Linked DNA regions of Homo sapiens. The protein of the gene in region 2 purifies or fractionates together with the protein of the main gene of each other region. This does not show direct contact. Each region holds a gene or a part of one and is shown on either strand. Other genes may lie near its edges.

Evidence for each region.
Region 1: the proteins of MIER3 (region 2) and IGSF21 purify together in Homo sapiens (affinity purification with mass spectrometry; one large-scale study listed by BioGRID and IntAct). This does not show direct contact.

Annotation. Positions count from the first base shown.
Region 1 is NC_000001.11:18,285,798-18,289,297, forward strand, and holds part of IGSF21 (immunoglobulin superfamily member 21 precursor), read left to right. Parts: intron 1-3,310; exon of another isoform or gene 3,311-3,500. UniProt on the Homo sapiens protein: Involved in synaptic inhibition in the brain. Selectively regulates inhibitory presynaptic differentiation through interacting with presynaptic NRXN2.
Region 2 is NC_000005.10:56,941,331-56,946,545, reverse strand, and holds part of MIER3 (mesoderm induction early response protein 3), read left to right. Parts: intron 1-5,215.

The DNA.
Region 1 (3,500 bases), on a different chromosome or scaffold from region 2:
AATATGATGGAGCACTTTCTGTTACGATGACAGGAGGTGATGTTTGCAAGCAATATCTGGCACAGGGTAGGCGCCAATGTATGCCAGCTATTGTTATTCCCGTCATGCTATTATTACCGCATGCCAAGCAATCCCCTGGGCTCTCTGTGTGTTCACTCTTACGCACTGAATTCTCACACGTGTGCCTTACAGGGAGGCATGATCCTTCCCGTTTTGCAGATGAGGAAACAGGCACACAGAACCCTCCAACCTCACCCAGCAATCAACTGAGTGGCAGAGCTGGGATCTGATTCCAGAGCTGTGTGACCCCAAAAGCCTCTGCACATTTCCCATATCCCCAACCTCAAAGTAGGTCTTCTGCTCCCTTCTTTTGGACTCATCCATGCTGAGCGGTCAGCTCTGCTGTTTACTATTACAAGTATAATACATGTGTGACCTTGGGCAGTTCACTTGCCTCTTTCTTGGCCGTGGTTCCTGTCTGCAAATGGGGATCATGACACACGTCTCTTGGTATAGTTCACTTATTCAACATCCCTTCGTATGCCAGGCACTGTGCTAGGCTCTGGGATACAGGGCTCTTGGAGCTTACAGTCCTGAGATTCCAAGGAACAATGGAAGGGAGGGCTGGGGGACACTCAGCCTGTGTAGGCACTGGTTAGGATGCAGATTCTTTTGCATAACTACGTGCACAGCCTCTTCTGTCTGGTCCAGGTGTACGCTTTGCAGAGTTAGGATGTTTTCCTGCACAGAATATCATTAATGCTGGGAGCTTTAAGAAAGAGAAAGCCTGCTGGTTCCTTTTGGAGCCTCACATCGGAGGTGGTCTGAGGCCACTGTCCCGCCTGGGCCAGGCTACTCTTACCAGGGAGTCCCAGACAGATCAGGGTCCAGGCACAGCAGGCTGTCCTGGGGCCAGTCTGTATCGCAGAGCAGCAAGGGCCTTTTCCCTTTTCTTCATGGTATTCCCAGTGCCTGGCACATGGTAAGGTCTCAACTCATTCATTCACTCATTGACTCATCCAGCAGATATTTATCGAGCGAGTGCCATTTGCTAAATTCTGGAAACAGAGCAATGGACAGGACAGATAAAGACCCCATCTTCGGCCAGGCACAGTGGCTCACGCCTGTAATCCCAGCACTTTGGGAGGCCGAGGCGGGCGGATCACGAGGTCAGGAGATCGAGACCATCCCGGCTAAAACGGTGAAACCCCGTCTCTACTAAAAATACAAAAAATTAGCCGGGCGTAGTGGCGGGCACCTGTAGTCCCAGCTACTTGGGAGGCTGAGGCAGGAGAATGGCGTGAACCCGGGAGGCGGAGCTTGCAGTGAGCCGAGATCGCGCCACTGCACTCCAGCCTGGGCGACAGAGCGAGACTCCGTCTCAAAAAAAAAAAATAAAATAAATAAATAAATAAAAATAAATAAAAATAAAAATAAAAATACAAAAAATTAGCTAGGCGTGGTGGCAGGTGCCTGTAGTCTCAACTACTTGGGAGGCTGAGGCAGGAGAATGGTGTGAACCTGGGAGGCGGAGCTTGCAGTGAGCTGAGATCGTGCCACTACACTCCAGGTTGGTGACAGAGCGAGACTCTGTCTCAAACAAACAAACAAACAAACAAAACAAAAAAAAAATCCACCCATCCTCATAGAGCTTATGTTCTAGGAGTAGCTCATATTCAAGGACCTGTGTGTTTGTTCATCAAAAGTCTGTTGAATATGGAGTGAATGAAATCATTCATTTCAGAAGTGCCTCTCGCTCTGGGGCCAGGCAAACCCACACATCCACAGGGCTTGGCTTACCTTGTCTGCCTTGTCACCTCTGTGGTTGTCGGTCGGCCCTGGCCTCGTGGTCCCTACCCACTGGCACCATGGGAGCCTCTCAGAGCCCATGAGACCTGCCTGCCTCCAGGTACTCACTCAGGGCATCCCTGCACTTTGTTTTGAAGCTGCTACGATGACTACTAGCAAATTCTCGGTCCCTGCTCTCTGCACCCCACTCCTTATAGACACAACCCAGCCTTCTGGCACCTTCCACCTGCCTCCCTCTCTGGGTGTGGGCTCCCTTCTTTCATTTACTGAATTCCACATCCTCTGGCATTTTAGCAAGAGATGCTTTGCTCTCCAGCCCCATAGACAGAAAGAGCCCTGGAGGGTGGGGAGGGACACAGAAAAACAGATGGTCCAGAAAGGTGTGAGTGCTCGTGAAAATACCCCATGAGTGAGCACTTCCCACCCACCAGGGACTCTACAAGGCTCATGTAATCCTCATAGGGAGGAACGTTGCCTTATCCCCATTTCACAGATGAGGAAACTGAGACTAGGGGAGGTGGAATGACTTCTTCAGAGCACAAAATTAGGAACCGAAATCAAACATTCAACTGGGGATGGAGGAAATCAGCCTTGCTTCATGCTCCAAAGCCTCCCATAGACAGAAAGAGCCAGCCTAGGACCAAGCACTCCCTGAAAAGGGCCTACTTCCTCCAGGAAGCCTTCCATGATCACCCTTCCCTCCAAGGGGATTCTTGGCTCCTTCAGAAGTGTCAGAACATCATTGGATAACACTTGGTAATTACCTGTTGCTGCTGCAGCCATCATCTTACTGACTCTGGAACCTCAGCTAATTGTGGACTGTGTACCTCTTGTGAATAAGGTCGTAATGGGCTGCAACCATGTCTGAAATGTATTTCCTTCTCGGCCGTGAGGCTGCAACTGCCCCTGTATGTCTCAGGCGTGGAGAAATGTTTCTAGAATTAAAGGCGAGGTGTCTTCCAGCACACCCACCACACCTTCTGTCCACAGCCTGTACTAATAATCCCCAACTCCCACCTGGCCTCTTTCTTGGGCCCTCTAACCACCAGGAACCACAGAATAACATCCTTGCAAATAGCTGCTAGCCCGCTGGCCCCACCTGAGCGTGTCTGAGCCTCCCATTTCCTTTGCCTTCCGAGAGGCTGAGGGAGGAAGGAGTGTGTACCACAGACAGCTGGGACAGTGGGGCCTGCCCTCCAGATCCCTCACCCTGCAGCTGAGATAAGCACTTGTCTCCAGCTGCCTGAAGCAGGTTTCACAGAAGCAGTTATTTACTCCTCTGGCTGACAGTGAGGCCCTGACACAGCCCCAGAGAAACAGATGTAAATAAAACCAAAGGAAAACTAGTCTCGTCCTTGAAACTCCCCTGTCCCTCAGCCTGAAACAGAGATTTACGACTCGGATAATTCTTCAGTGCTTTATCTGGGGTGTGTGGGTATGTGTGTGGATGTGTGGGGTGTGGGTGTATTTTCCTCGTAATAAAACCCTCAGTCTCGGCGAATAAATTTGAGGAGACAGTTTTACTGACAGATTTTTTTCTCTTTTGTGTAATAAAAAAAATGGAGTGAAATTTGAGATTGGGACGATAAGGGCTGCCGCATTTTAGGAGGAGATAAAAAAGCAGTACCTGAAGGGAGGTGAGGCCAGAAGACGGGCTGCCAGTTAAACAGGCAGGATGCCTTCCGCTTTAT
Region 2 (5,215 bases):
CCTTTTCCTTCAAATAACTCATAATCTAGTGGAATATTTTAAGAAAATTGAAAAAGATTTACTGTATTTTCAAATATAAATTGGTAATATCCCATCCCCTGCTCCTTTAAAAGTCATCTTTGAAAAGGTTGGCAAGAGTGAGTGTAGTTTGTAATTTTTTAAGCCCCAAGTCAATATAAATTCAAATGAACTGTATTTTCATGCATTTATACCAGGACTGTATATAGAGAGGTCCCTATAGGGGTCACCTTGAAAACGTGTAGGATTTATGCTTACTTAACCATATTTGAAAATTTCTTATCAGCCAGAATAACAAAAGCTTTCAGAAATGATACTTATCCCCTGAGTTTCTTATACCTCTTTTTCTTGAAAAGGGCAAGCACATTCTTATATATATCATCTCCTCTGCTTAGTAGCTTTGTGAGGCAGGAGTGGAGTATTATTTTATTTCCTTCTTCATGTTAATACACAGGGAAACAGAAGAGTGACTTAACTGCCCACTTGCTCTGATCTGTTGTTCTTATCTGTAGTGAAGTACAACTGTATACATGTGGTCTCTATTCTTTTTATTGATGTTTAATGAAACATGAAAATGAATAAAAGAAACAGTAGAGACACAAATATAAAGAGTAAGGATCAAGCTTTTAGAAGGAATTTTAAATTATGTTTTGATTATTTCTATATCACTTGAAATAGTGTATTCTCTTAATCTTTTTTAGTGGAATAGGGATTTAGGTATTGGTGCATGTTAACAGTCTTAGGGGATTGATGTTAATGTTCATTTTCAAGAATTATAAGTTTTTATGTTCATAGTAAATAAACTCAGTTGTGTGTTGACTGTAATGTGGCCCATATTTTGGTGTTTACAAATTTTTAGTACGTCGTGTTATGGAAAATAAGGTAAGTACTAAAGCAATTTTCTCGTAGTAGCACTTTGAGTATAGAATATGTGGCTAGATTTTAGTTACTAAACATACTAAAATAGGGTTTATGTAATATCTTTATATATTTTAATGTATGCATATTACTGCCATCTGAGAGCTTTTAATAGACCTAGATTTATAGGTAGAACTTTTTTTTTTTGAGACGAAGACTTGCTCCATTGCGCAGGCTGGAGTGCAGTGGCACAATCTCGGCTCACTGCAGCCTCTGCCTCCTGGGTTCAAGTGATTCTCCTGCCTCAGCCTCCCGAGTAGTTGGGATTACAGGCATCCACCACCACACCTGGCTACTTTTTGTATTTTTGGTAGAGACGGGGTTTTGCCATGTTGGCCAGGCTGGTCTTGAACTCCTGACCTCAGGCAGTCCACCTGCCTCGGCCTTCCAAAGTGCTGGGATTATAGCATGAGCCACCACACCTGGCTGGTAGAACTTTTTAAAGAGTTCTTATTTCTACTTTTATTAATACATAATTACCCCCTTGATGTTCACTGTGAGAAAAATTCAAAAATTCAGAAAAGCACAAATGAGAAAGTAAAATATCACTTTTTCTACCATTTAACTTTAGTATAGGTTTTTCCTTTTTTGTTAAAAGAAAAAAAGGCATTTAGGCTGGGGGCAGTGGCTCAGACATGTAATCTCAACACTTTGGGAGGCTGAAGTGGGATGATCGCTTGAGCCCAGGAGTCTGAGACCAGCCTGGGCCACATAGTGAGACCCTGTTTCTACCAAAAAAATTTAACAATTAGCTGGGTGTGATGGTGCATGCTAGTAGCCCCAGCTACTTGGGAGGCTGAGGTGGGAGGATCACTTGATCATCCCAGAAGTTCAAGGTTGCAGTGAGCTATGATTGTGCCACTGTATTCCAGAGTATGTGACAGACTGAGACCCTGTCTGGAAAAAAAAAGATCACCAGACATTTAAACAAATTATATGTATATAGTTTTGCAGCCTGTGCCTTAAGGTATCAGACAGGCGTTAGTTACTAACATTAAAATGCATCTCAGCCTCATTTGGTCCATCCAGTGATACCATCAGTTGTGTCAGATGAATACTGGCATTATTTTTCTAGGCTCAGAGGCCTTGTTGATTGTAGGATGTACTGTTGATTTCTTTTTTTTTTTTTGAGACGGAGTCTCGCTCTGTCGCCCAGGCTGGAGTGCAGTGGCGCAATCTTGGCTTACTGCAGGCTCCGCCTCCCGGATTCACGCCATTCTCCTGCCTCAGCTTCCTGAATAGCTGGGACTATAGGTGCCCGCCACCAAGCCTGGCTAATTTTTTTTGTATTTTTTTTTTTTTAGTAGAGACGGGGTTTCACCGTGTTAGCCAGGATGGTCTCGATCTCCTGACCTCGTGATCTGCCCTCCTCGGCCTCCCAAAGTGCTGGGATTACAGGCGTGAGCCACCGCGCCCAGCCTACTGTTGACTTCTAAACAGTGCAGGTGGTGGAGGAACGCTTGTATATGAAGTTTGCACTTTAGTATCAGGCTACATCCTGATTCTGATATGTGAGGGAGTGCATCATAGGATCAAGGAAATGATGGTATGTGAGGAAATGGAGGTGAGAGGGATTAGGTGATTTGTCCAAGATATTGGTTAGCAATTAGTGGATCTTTTGCCCTAAATCTGGTTCTCTTCCTGATATAAATCCTTTGACTTACAGAACAGTTCATTTATAAGTGTGACTAGACTCTACTGTGTCCCTTAAAATGTAAATAGGTTCAACAAAATACCCAAGAAGAGGAAGAGAAAAATCCTTATACCCGGGATAAGGTGATGGATCACACTTCTAAGCTGATTTAGCTACCACAGATCCTTACAGACTTTGAGACTTACTAATTCAATTTTGAAAAAATTGTTTTTATGTTTTAAAGGACTTAAGTGCTTTATTAATAGGCTCTCAAAGAGAGTTCATTTGTGAAGTGCTTCAGAGACTAGATTCACCTTTTCCAGTTTTGCTTTAAAAGTTTTGGTGCAAATGATGTGTGTTTTAGCATCAGCCCTCTGGCCACCCGTGTCATCCCTTGAACTTATTAATGCAGTTTCTACGGAGATGGTCATCTTGTCCCTCAACAGATGGTCATTCCTGTGTCTTTATAGAAAAGCGGGGTTTTCTTGAGTGGATGCTGGGAACCTCCTGTCTCCCTCACATGTACAAACTTTTATATTATTCTTTCCCTCCTGTCCTGCAAAGTATCTGTGATATCCCAGGCTAACCTCTAGATTCTATCCCTCCTGCCCTCAATTTATTCTTCTACCTTTTTTTTTTTTAAATTTCCACATAAGAATCCTACTAATGCAGATCCCACATTTGGAAGAAATTCTCTTTTGATCTTGTGTTGCCCTCAGTCACTCTCCTTTTGTAGCCAAGTCTCAAGTCATGTATGTACTTTCTTCCCTCCCGTTCAGTCTTTAGCTTGGCTTCTTCCACCATGCTATAAGGCCACCAATAATTACTTTTTTAGAGATGGTCTCACTCTGTCACCCAGGCTAGAGTGCAGCGGTATCATCATGCCAACTGCAGCCTTGACCTCCTGGGCTTAAGCAGTTTTCCCCCACTCAGCTTCCCAAAGCCCAGGGATTACTGGTGTATCCCACCACCCTGGCTAATTTAAAAAAAAATTTTTTTTATAGAGAAGGGGTCTTGCAATGCCCAGGCTGGTCTCCAACTCCTGGGCTCGAGCAATCCTACCTTGGCGTCCCAAAGTGCTGGGATTACAGGCAGCAGCTACCGCGCTTGTCCCAGGTCACCAATAATTCCTGATTGCCAGATACTAAGATTTCTTGTCTTTCTCTTGCTCAGTTTCTTTTTGGAATTTGACCCAAGTGACCATTCTTGATTATCCATACTTGTTTCTGCCTTAATTTAAGTAATCCTACTTTTTCCTCGTTCTATTTTCTGGCTTCTCCCTCTTTCTTATTTTATGATCTTTTCTTTCTTTGCCCGCATTTTAATTAACATTCTCCAGGGTTTTGGCTATTATCGTCTCACTCTGTGTGCCTTTTCTGGGTGTTCTCACTCAAACCCACTGCTTTAACTTTCACCTTAAACTCATCGTTACCATCCCATCCTTAAGTTTATCTTGTGCTTCTGTCTCATAGTGGTGCTATAGTTACCTAACTTCTCAGGCCAGAAATCTGGCAATCCATTTAGACTCCTGTGTTGCTTTCATTCCTTGTATCAAGTAACTCAAGAAAGGGATCTTTCCCTAAATTTCACTCAAATAATCCCCCTCCTTAGTTCAGGCTCTCATTCTACTTCCCTTACAACATTATTTCCAAAATACAAATCATGTTTAAGAATTTTCAGACATACCCATTGCCCATAGTGTAATACATCTGAAAGTTCTTCTGATAAGCATAGATCCCTTCCTCTTTTCTCTCTACCCTCTCCGTGGGTGAGCTCATCAACTTCTGTGGCTTTAAATATCATCTAGATGCTAATGAATGCCAGATTTATATCTTTAGCCCAGCCTGGTTCTCTGAGCTCCAGGCTCCTGGCCAACCTGACTTTTCTACTTGGATGTTTCATAGTCCTCTTAAACTTAACTGTGTCCTTTGCAGAACTCTTGTTGTTGTTGTTTTTTTCTTCAAAAACCTTTTATTCCTTTAGTATTCTTTATCTTGGCAGAAGTTACCACCATCTAGGCAATTGCTCAAATAGAAAACTGGGGAGTCCTCCTTCCCTTTCCCTCCCACGTCCAGTGACCCATTTGGTTCCACCTCAGAATATGTCTCTTCTCTTCACTTCTCTCCTCTTGTGTATCAGTACCCTCACCTAGCATGAGGCTTTTTAAGTGGTTTCCCTGCTTCTCTTGTATCTCTCCACCCTTCTTAACTTTTCTTCATGCAGGTGTTCAGTATTTTAAGAAGAAATAATGCCATGGTACTCCCTTTTTATGAGTCTCTAATGGCTCCTCATTGCCCTGGGAATGAAGTCCAAGTTCCTTTCCCTGGCCCTGAGGCCCTTTGCGATCTGTCCCTGCCTCTCTTTCCATTCTCTTGAGCCATTCTTCATTCTACTCACCAAACTTTGGCCACTTGGCTTAGCAGGGAACCACCTTCAGGCCTCACATATGTCTTTTTTTTTTGCCTGGAATACTCTTCATGGGACTGGCCTTCTCAGACTTCAGGCCTCCGCTGAAGATTGCTGACTGTCTTTCCCTGCTACCCTCTGGAAGTGGGCCCCGAGTGTTACTCTGTATCTCAGGGCTCTATTTGTTTGTTACACTCATCAAACTTGGCAGCCCTATATTTGTGTATTGTCAAAAGCCTT